2 linked regions of the Homo sapiens genome follow. The protein of the gene in region 1 purifies or fractionates together with the protein of each later gene. This does not show direct contact. Each region holds a gene or a part of one and is shown on either strand. Other genes may lie near its edges. The genes, in order: DHX29 and CKAP5.

Evidence for each region.
Region 2: the proteins of DHX29 (region 1) and CKAP5 fractionate together in Homo sapiens (co-fractionation; one large-scale study listed by BioGRID). This does not show direct contact.

What each region holds. Positions count from the first base shown.
Region 1 is NC_000005.10:55,300,871-55,304,694, forward strand, and holds part of DHX29 (ATP-dependent RNA helicase DHX29), read right to left. Parts: intron 1-3,824. UniProt on the Homo sapiens protein: ATP-binding RNA helicase involved in translation initiation. Part of the 43S pre-initiation complex that is required for efficient initiation on mRNAs of higher eukaryotes with structured 5'-UTRs by promoting efficient NTPase-dependent 48S complex formation.
Region 2 is NC_000011.10:46,797,590-46,801,413, reverse strand, and holds part of CKAP5 (cytoskeleton-associated protein 5), read left to right. Parts: intron 1-109; coding exon 110-214; intron 215-3,241; coding exon 3,242-3,331; intron 3,332-3,444; coding exon 3,445-3,609; intron 3,610-3,824. UniProt on the Homo sapiens protein: Binds to the plus end of microtubules and regulates microtubule dynamics and microtubule organization. Acts as a processive microtubule polymerase. Promotes cytoplasmic microtubule nucleation and elongation. Plays a major role in organizing spindle poles.

The sequences.
Region 1 (3,824 bases):
CAGAAATTTATTTCTCATAGTTCTGGAGGTTGGGAAGTCCAAGATTAGGGTACCAGCAAGGGAGGTTTCATTCTGAGGCCTCTTCTCTTGGCATGTAGGTGGCCATCATCTTGCTATATGTTCACATGGCTTTTTTCTCTGTGCTTACTCAGAGAAACTGAGCTCTCTTGGGTATCTCATTTTATAAGGACACTAATCCTGTTGGATCAGGGCCCCATCCCTGTGATCTCATTTAACCTTATGTACTTCCTTAGAGCCCTTATCTCCAAATATAGCCACACTGGGGGTAAGGGTCTCAACATACTAATTTTTTGAGGACACAAACATTCAGTTCGTAACATCTAGCTTCTGCATTCAATCTGCCGTAACATTACACATCATGTAGCCAACTGGACAACCTCACTGCATAATCATGAGAAAATGAGCGTGAAAAATGGCAAAAACATCTCAGAATTATTATGAAAAGTTTTCACTTCATGGAGCCCTTGGCAAACAAGTCTCAGGTTCCTTAGGACCTCCTGAGCACACTTTGAGAAACACTGCTGTATAAGAATGATCCCAGGCCAGGCGTGGTGGCTCACGCCTGTAATCCCAACACTTTGGGAGGCCAAGGCAGGTGGATCACCTGAGGTCAGGAGTTCAAGACCAGCCTGACCAACATGGAGAAACCCCATCTCTACTAAAAATACAAAATTAGCCAGGCGTGGTGGTGCATGCCTGTAATCCCAGCTACTCGGGAGGCTGAGGCAGGAGAATCGCTTGAACTCAGAAGGCGGAGGTTGCAGTGAGCCGAGATTTCGCCATTGCACTCCAGCCTGGGCAACAAGAGTGAAACTCCATCTCAAAAAAAAAAAAAAAAAAAAAAACAAGAATGATTCCAGAATCATAAATCTAGTTGCATGGTTTTTATACACCTTAAAATAAGAAGTATTTTTTCTACTTTGAGACATTTAAACATTAAATGTTCTTATGATTTTAAAGTCAAAGACTTTGCTCTCTGCTGGGTTACATTAGGTTCTTCATTTTAAGATGGTAGCTAATATAATTAGATATTTTAAAAGAACAAAAGTTTTTGAGAATAACTACTTGAAATTAACTTGTACATCTGGGCAGTCTGAAAGAGAAACATTTGTGGTTCTCTGTCAATTACTGCTATGCTATAGTTATATCGGAGGTACCCAAAGCTACATGGCATATGTAAAAAGATAATAACAAGTCTGGTATAGTATTGTTAGTTTCCTTATCGTCTAGTCTCAAACTTTACCTTAATTCTAGTAATCTCTCCTATAAATTCATGTCAATGGTCATAAAGGAGAGTATATATTTAGTAGTCTTTAACTATTTCTGGGGAGTCTTATCAATTATAGTAAGCTTGTGCACAAATTTAGCATGCAGTTTTAGAGGTCCCCAAACACATCAAGAGGCCCCAGCTATAACCCTTTTAAAAAGTTACAGATAGATGAGCAGTACATTACCAAGACTACATGGAGAAACAGTTCAAAGTTCATATGCTACTGACAAGAGTAAGACTGTAAATTCCTTTAAAAATGCCAGCCGGGGCAACATGGTGAAACCCCATCTCTACAAAAAATACAAAATATTAGCTAGGTGTGGTGGCTTGTGCCTGTAATCCCAGCTACTTGGGAGGCTGAGATGGGAGGATTGCTTGAGCCTGGGAGGCAGAGATTGTAGTGAGCCACTGGGCGACAGAGTGACCCTATCAAAAAAAAAAAAAAAAAAAACTGGTTGGTTTTTAATTTACCCAGTTGAAAAGATTAAAGTAAAATTCTCATTTGTCTCCTCCAAACATTTCACCTAAGAGTTTCAACTGTATCACTTCCTTGAAGTTGGCTTATACTGCAAACTTCCAGAGGGTAAACAAAAGAGCTGAGTTTCTGAAAAATGATCAGAGAAATCAAGGAATCCTGCTCAACATTCACTGGGCCACGTTCACTTTTGCCAAGTAAAGTGCATAAGATTTATGACAGCTACTTTCCTTATTGCCTGGAGACTTTTACAATTTTTGGTTTTGTGTTTAAGATGGTGGAAGTTACTGGAAATCTGACTGGAAGTAAGGATGTTAGTATGCAATATCTCCAAGGCAAAGTATTATGAATTCCAAATTTATAAATGAAAGGTCATGGAACGATGCAACATATATAGCTGGCTCTCAAAAATATTTATTACATTAAAGTTGAAGCACAGACAAACTGATTTCCTCAAAATGACTCAGCTAATTAAAAAAAAAAAATCAACCAGAATCAGTTTCTTATTGCCCAATAATCTTTTCTTTTGCTACATATTCTTTTTATACTGTATTTTAAAGGAAAAAGCAATGCTAATGACCCACTATGACTAAGACATTGACTTTGAGTTGTTAGCACTCTGATTCCCTTCTGATCGACAGTGTGTACATCTGCAGAATGGTTAATCAGGCAAGGGACCCAAACAGGGACTCTGGTGGTAAACAGACCCAGTGCCTGTCCTCATGGAGCTTATATTCTGGAACAGTAATATAATTAGTAAGCAACTAATACTCAGATGAGTAATAAAGGGGAAGTGCAGAGTGCCAAGAAAATAGATGAGGGTGAATTGATGTAGTCTGAGCAATTAAGGCCTGTGAGGAAGTACACACTGCCAGGGCCGCCTGACTAATTATTTTGAAATGTAAACCAGCTAAAGTTTCTCCTCTACTTAATACCAACACCGGCCCCCACTTCCCATTGAACTTGCTCTGGCTCCTTCCCAGACTTCCAGCCACATTTTAACTTTTTCTTTCTTCGCTCCAGCCACACAGCACTATCTTCTTACAACATGTCAAACTTGTTTCCACCTTAGGGTTTTTAGGCTTGTTTTTCCCTCTGCCACAAATACTCTGCAGATCATCTCAGTTTAAATGTTTTCTAAGGGAAGCTATTCCTATTTCAAACCAAAATAGACCCTCCATTCTCCATTTAATGTTTACCAAGTCACTATTTTCTGTTCCTCATAGCACTTTTTCTATTTTAGTGACCCTAAAAAAAAATTTATAATGGCTTTCATAAATTTATGACATCCATTCCCAATTCTTATTCCCCTCTTAAAATTTTAAGCCTCAACTAGGTTCAAGGATTTTCAGAAACACAAGCCTCTTGGTTGGAAGAGAAAACTTAAATTACTGAACCTCTTATTTTGGTCTCAGTCATAACATGATAAAGCAGCTTAATTATACTTAGGCTAAGGAAGTGGCACTTCTAAAGCACAGGAATGGAAAGAAGAAAGAAAAGAAAAGAAAGGCAAAGAGAAGGACAGTAAAAGAAAGATGGGGAAAGGTCTTGCTATTTCTAGAACACTCCAGGCTTGCATCTCAAGGCCTTTCTGTTCCCTCTCCCCAGGAGACTCTTTACCCAGTCATCTGTGTAACTACTTTACCTGCCTCCTTTGCTTGCTCAAATGTCACTTTTTTTTTTTTTTTTTTTTTTGAGACCGAGTCTTGCTGTCACCCAGGCTGGAGTGCAGTGGCACAATCTCAGCTCACTGCAAGCTCCGCCTCCCGGGTTCACGCCATTCTCCTGCCTCAGCCTCTCCGAGTAGCTGGGACTACAGGCGCTCGCCACTATGCCCAGCTAATTTTTTATATTTTTAGTAGAGACGGGGTTTCACCGTGGTCTCAATCTCCTGACCTCGTGATCCGCCTGCCTCGGCCTCCCAAAGTGCTGGGATTACAAGCGTGAGCCACTGCGCCTAGCCACCTTCTTATATGATGCCTTCCTTCCCTGACCATCCTATTTAATACTGAACCTCTCCCCACCCTCCTCCCTATTCGGCCTCTTCAGAAATTCTTT
Region 2 (3,824 bases), on another chromosome or scaffold:
ACAGGTGTGAGCCGCTGCACCCGGCCTCAGAGTTCTTTTGAGAATAAAATTTCAATACCCTTCTACATGGCTGTGACTATTTTGTTTTCCTTTTTACCCCCCTTTGTAGGTTGTTGGAAAGGACACCAATGTCATGTTGGTGGCTTTGGCAGCAAAATGTCTTACTGGCCTGGCTGTTGGGCTAAGGAAGAAATTTGGACAATATGCAGGACATGTAAGTAACACTCCTTTTTAGATACAGATCAACAAAATTTATCAAAAATGGTAGGCCTAGTTTGCTGTTTGCTTTAAAACAACTCCTTGGCATAGATGTGTATATACTGTACAAAGTAAATTTCTCTCTGTTTTGTTAATATTCAGCATAGATATATCTTAGAAATTTCAGTAGATGTCAGTTGTAACAAAATTTATAGGCCTTATGTAGAAAGTCAGGCACTAGGCCTAAAGTACTTAGTTGAGTTTATTTATTTGCTTATTACTTATTTACTTACTAGTATCTTGCTTTGTTCTTACAACATTATACACATCATAACAAGATGAAACAAAACTTGTAACGACCAGGACCAGAATGAAAATGAGAGTCGGAAAGGCAATGTAAAACTATAAATGTAAAACTGTGAGGTTAATATATAAAATGTGTTTTACATTGTTTTCCTATTTTAATATATAATTTACTTACATATTTGAGACATTTTATATAGGTTACAATGTTATATATTTTATATAGGTTATCTCCGTTTTACTTATTCAAAGAAAATCTGACTGGAGACATTTGTTGACTTACTATTTGTATAAGTTTGTTTCCAATCAAATTTGGTAATAATTTTAATTAAGATGTTTTCTTTAACTGTGGCATCTGTCCTTTGGCCTCTAAATCCGGTCTGCATTACTAAGAATGGCTCAGCATCCTAAAAATTGACCTTATTGATCTTTAGAGTTTAGCTTGCTAGCCCCTTCATCATTTGATTCCCTAGACTGACTTAGGAGTTTCCTAATAGTCCCTAGTCATGTGTCCATTTTATATTGTGAAGCTAATACCTAGCCTCACATGAGCTATGGTATTTGGAGCTTGCTTACTCATAGCATTAAAAATAATCTCAGAGAACTTAACTGAAGAAAAAGAAGACACTACCAAATAAAAATAAATCATGACTGGCTTATTACTAGGGAAATAAAAATAAGGGTCTGTAAAACCCTTAGACATATACATCATAAATTGAAATAAAATTAAAATCTATTTTTATAGCAATCAATATTATATAATATCGATGTGTATATGCCATTTTGATCAATTTTATATTACTTAGGATATTTTACACTTTTATATTGGGAATAATTTTTCAAGATAAAAAACAATTTTTTCCTACACCACTTAAATATCAGTTCAGAGAATAATTTTAGTTTTTTTTTTTTGAGACAGGGTCTCACTTTGTCACCCAGGCTGGAGTGCAGTGGCACCATCTCAGTTCACTGCAGCCTTAACCTCCTAGGCGCAGGTGATCCTCCCACCTCAGTCTCCTGAGTAGCTGGGACTTCAGGCACACCCCACACCATGCTTGAGTACTTTTTGTATTTTTGGTAGAGATGGGGTTTTGCCACCTTGCCCAGGCTGGTCTCGAAATCCTGAGCTCAAGCTATCTGCCTGCCTCAGCCTCCCAAAGTGCTGGGATTACAGGCTTGAGCCACCACACCCGGCCTAAAATTCATTTTAATTTACCAAATTATGGTTGGATAATTAACTGGCTTTCCAGTTTGAGTTCTGATTCTGGCTTTGTTTCAGTTTGTTGTCCTGGTTAAAGAATGTCTCTATTGCTCTGTAGTTTGGGGTCTCCCCCACCTTAATACTGTAATATATGCGGTGTTTAGTATCAAGCATGTTACTGACTTGGCTTTATTTTCTTTAAATGTTTACAAACTTTTTGGCAATATTTATAAAAGTGAATGTTAGCTTTATAGACATTAAAATATCTTGATTTTCAAGTTTATAACTAGTATTAAAAAGTCTTGTATTTTTCCATGGGAACCATAGTCCTTGAACTATACCAAGTAGTCTATAACCACTTCTGTGAAATCTTGAAAACAATTATTTCTTGTTTTTGGATGCCATTGAGCTTTGCTGTGTCCTTTGGACCTTAGAAATTTTCTTCCCCAGCCTGGGCAACATGGAGAAACCCCCGTCTCGACAAAAAATAAAATAAAAAATTATATTTACAGGGAAATGGTCAAGAAATTAAGAATTAAAAAAAAAAATAGCAGGTGTGGTGACATATACCTGAGGCCTACCTACTCGGGAGGCTGAGATGAGAGGATTACTTGAGCCCAGGAGGCCGAGGCTTCAGTGAGCCATGTTCATCCCACTGCACTCCCACGTGGGTGACAGAGCAGAGGCGGCAAATAGGTTGAGAAGCACTGCCATAGTGGGAGAGAATGAGAATTCTTCATTGTTCCGGCATAAGATACGATGTCCTTCATGAAAGGAAATGACTTTTTATTCCACTTAAATGTTTGCTTTATTGGTTTGTTTTGGTGGAGACAAGGTGGTTTTTTAGAAAGTAAGTTTTATTGAGATAAAACTTGCATACTATAAAATTTACCCTCTTAAAGTGATTTTAGAATATTCACAATGTTACATAACCATCAGCACTATCTAATTCCAGAACATCTTCATCACCCCAAAAAGAAACCCCTTGCCCATTAACAGTCTCTCCCCATGCTGCTCCCTGCCCTTGACTCTAGCAACCACTAATCTACTTTTTTGTCTCTGGATTTAACATTTCATGTAAATGGAGTCATACAATACATGGTCTTTGTGACTGCTTTTTTTTTTTTTTTGGAAGACAGGGTCTTGCTGTGTTGCCCAGGCTACAATACAGTGATGCAGTCGTAGCTCACTGCAGCTTTGACCTCCTGGGTTCAAGTAATCCTCCCACCTCAGCCTCCCAAGTAGCTGGGATCATAGGCACATACCACCACACCTGGCTAATTTTTTTTTGTTTGTTTTAGTAGAGACAAGATCTCACTCTGTTGCCCAGGCTGGTCTTGAACTCCTTGCCTCAAGCAACCCACCTGCCTCAGCCTCCCAAAGTGCTGGGATTACAGGCATGAGTCACTGTGCCCAGCCTGTGACTGGCTTTTTTTTTAACTTAGCATACTATTTTTAAGGTTCAGCCATGTTCTAGGATATATCAATATATCATTCCTCTTTGTTGCTGAATAATGTGCTAGCCATTCACTTTTACAGGTTGTGCCAACCATCTTGGAGAAATTCAAAGAGAAGAAACCTCAAGTGGTACAAGCCCTGCAGGAGGCAATTGATGCAATCTTCCTTACTGTAAGTTGACAGCATGAGTTTGTAGTTTTATCTGAAGTAAAGTTTGTAAATATAATATTTTGATTGTTCTTTACAATTGAAAAAAGCTCATTAACCACATTTTCTTTCTAAAGACCACACTACAGAACATCAGTGAGGATGTTTTAGCAGTAATGGATAATAAAAATCCAACCATCAAGCAGCAGACATCTCTTTTTATTGCAAGAAGTTTCCGCCACTGCACTGCTTCTACCCTGCCAAAGAGCTTGCTAAAGCCCTTTTGTGCTGCACTACTTAAGGTACAGACTCTCTTTGAAGTTGGGGGAATATTTTATACCTAGGCAAGATTCTTTTCCTGCAAATTATGTACAGTGACTACTTGACTTTCAGACTATAGAGGTTATGATCTTTTGAGGAGCAGAGCCTTTGCAGCTTGGAAACTGAATCCAAATTCTCCTGTGTTCCTCTTCTTGAAAGAAAGCACAAGTTAGTGTTATGATTCCATTAACTGTTA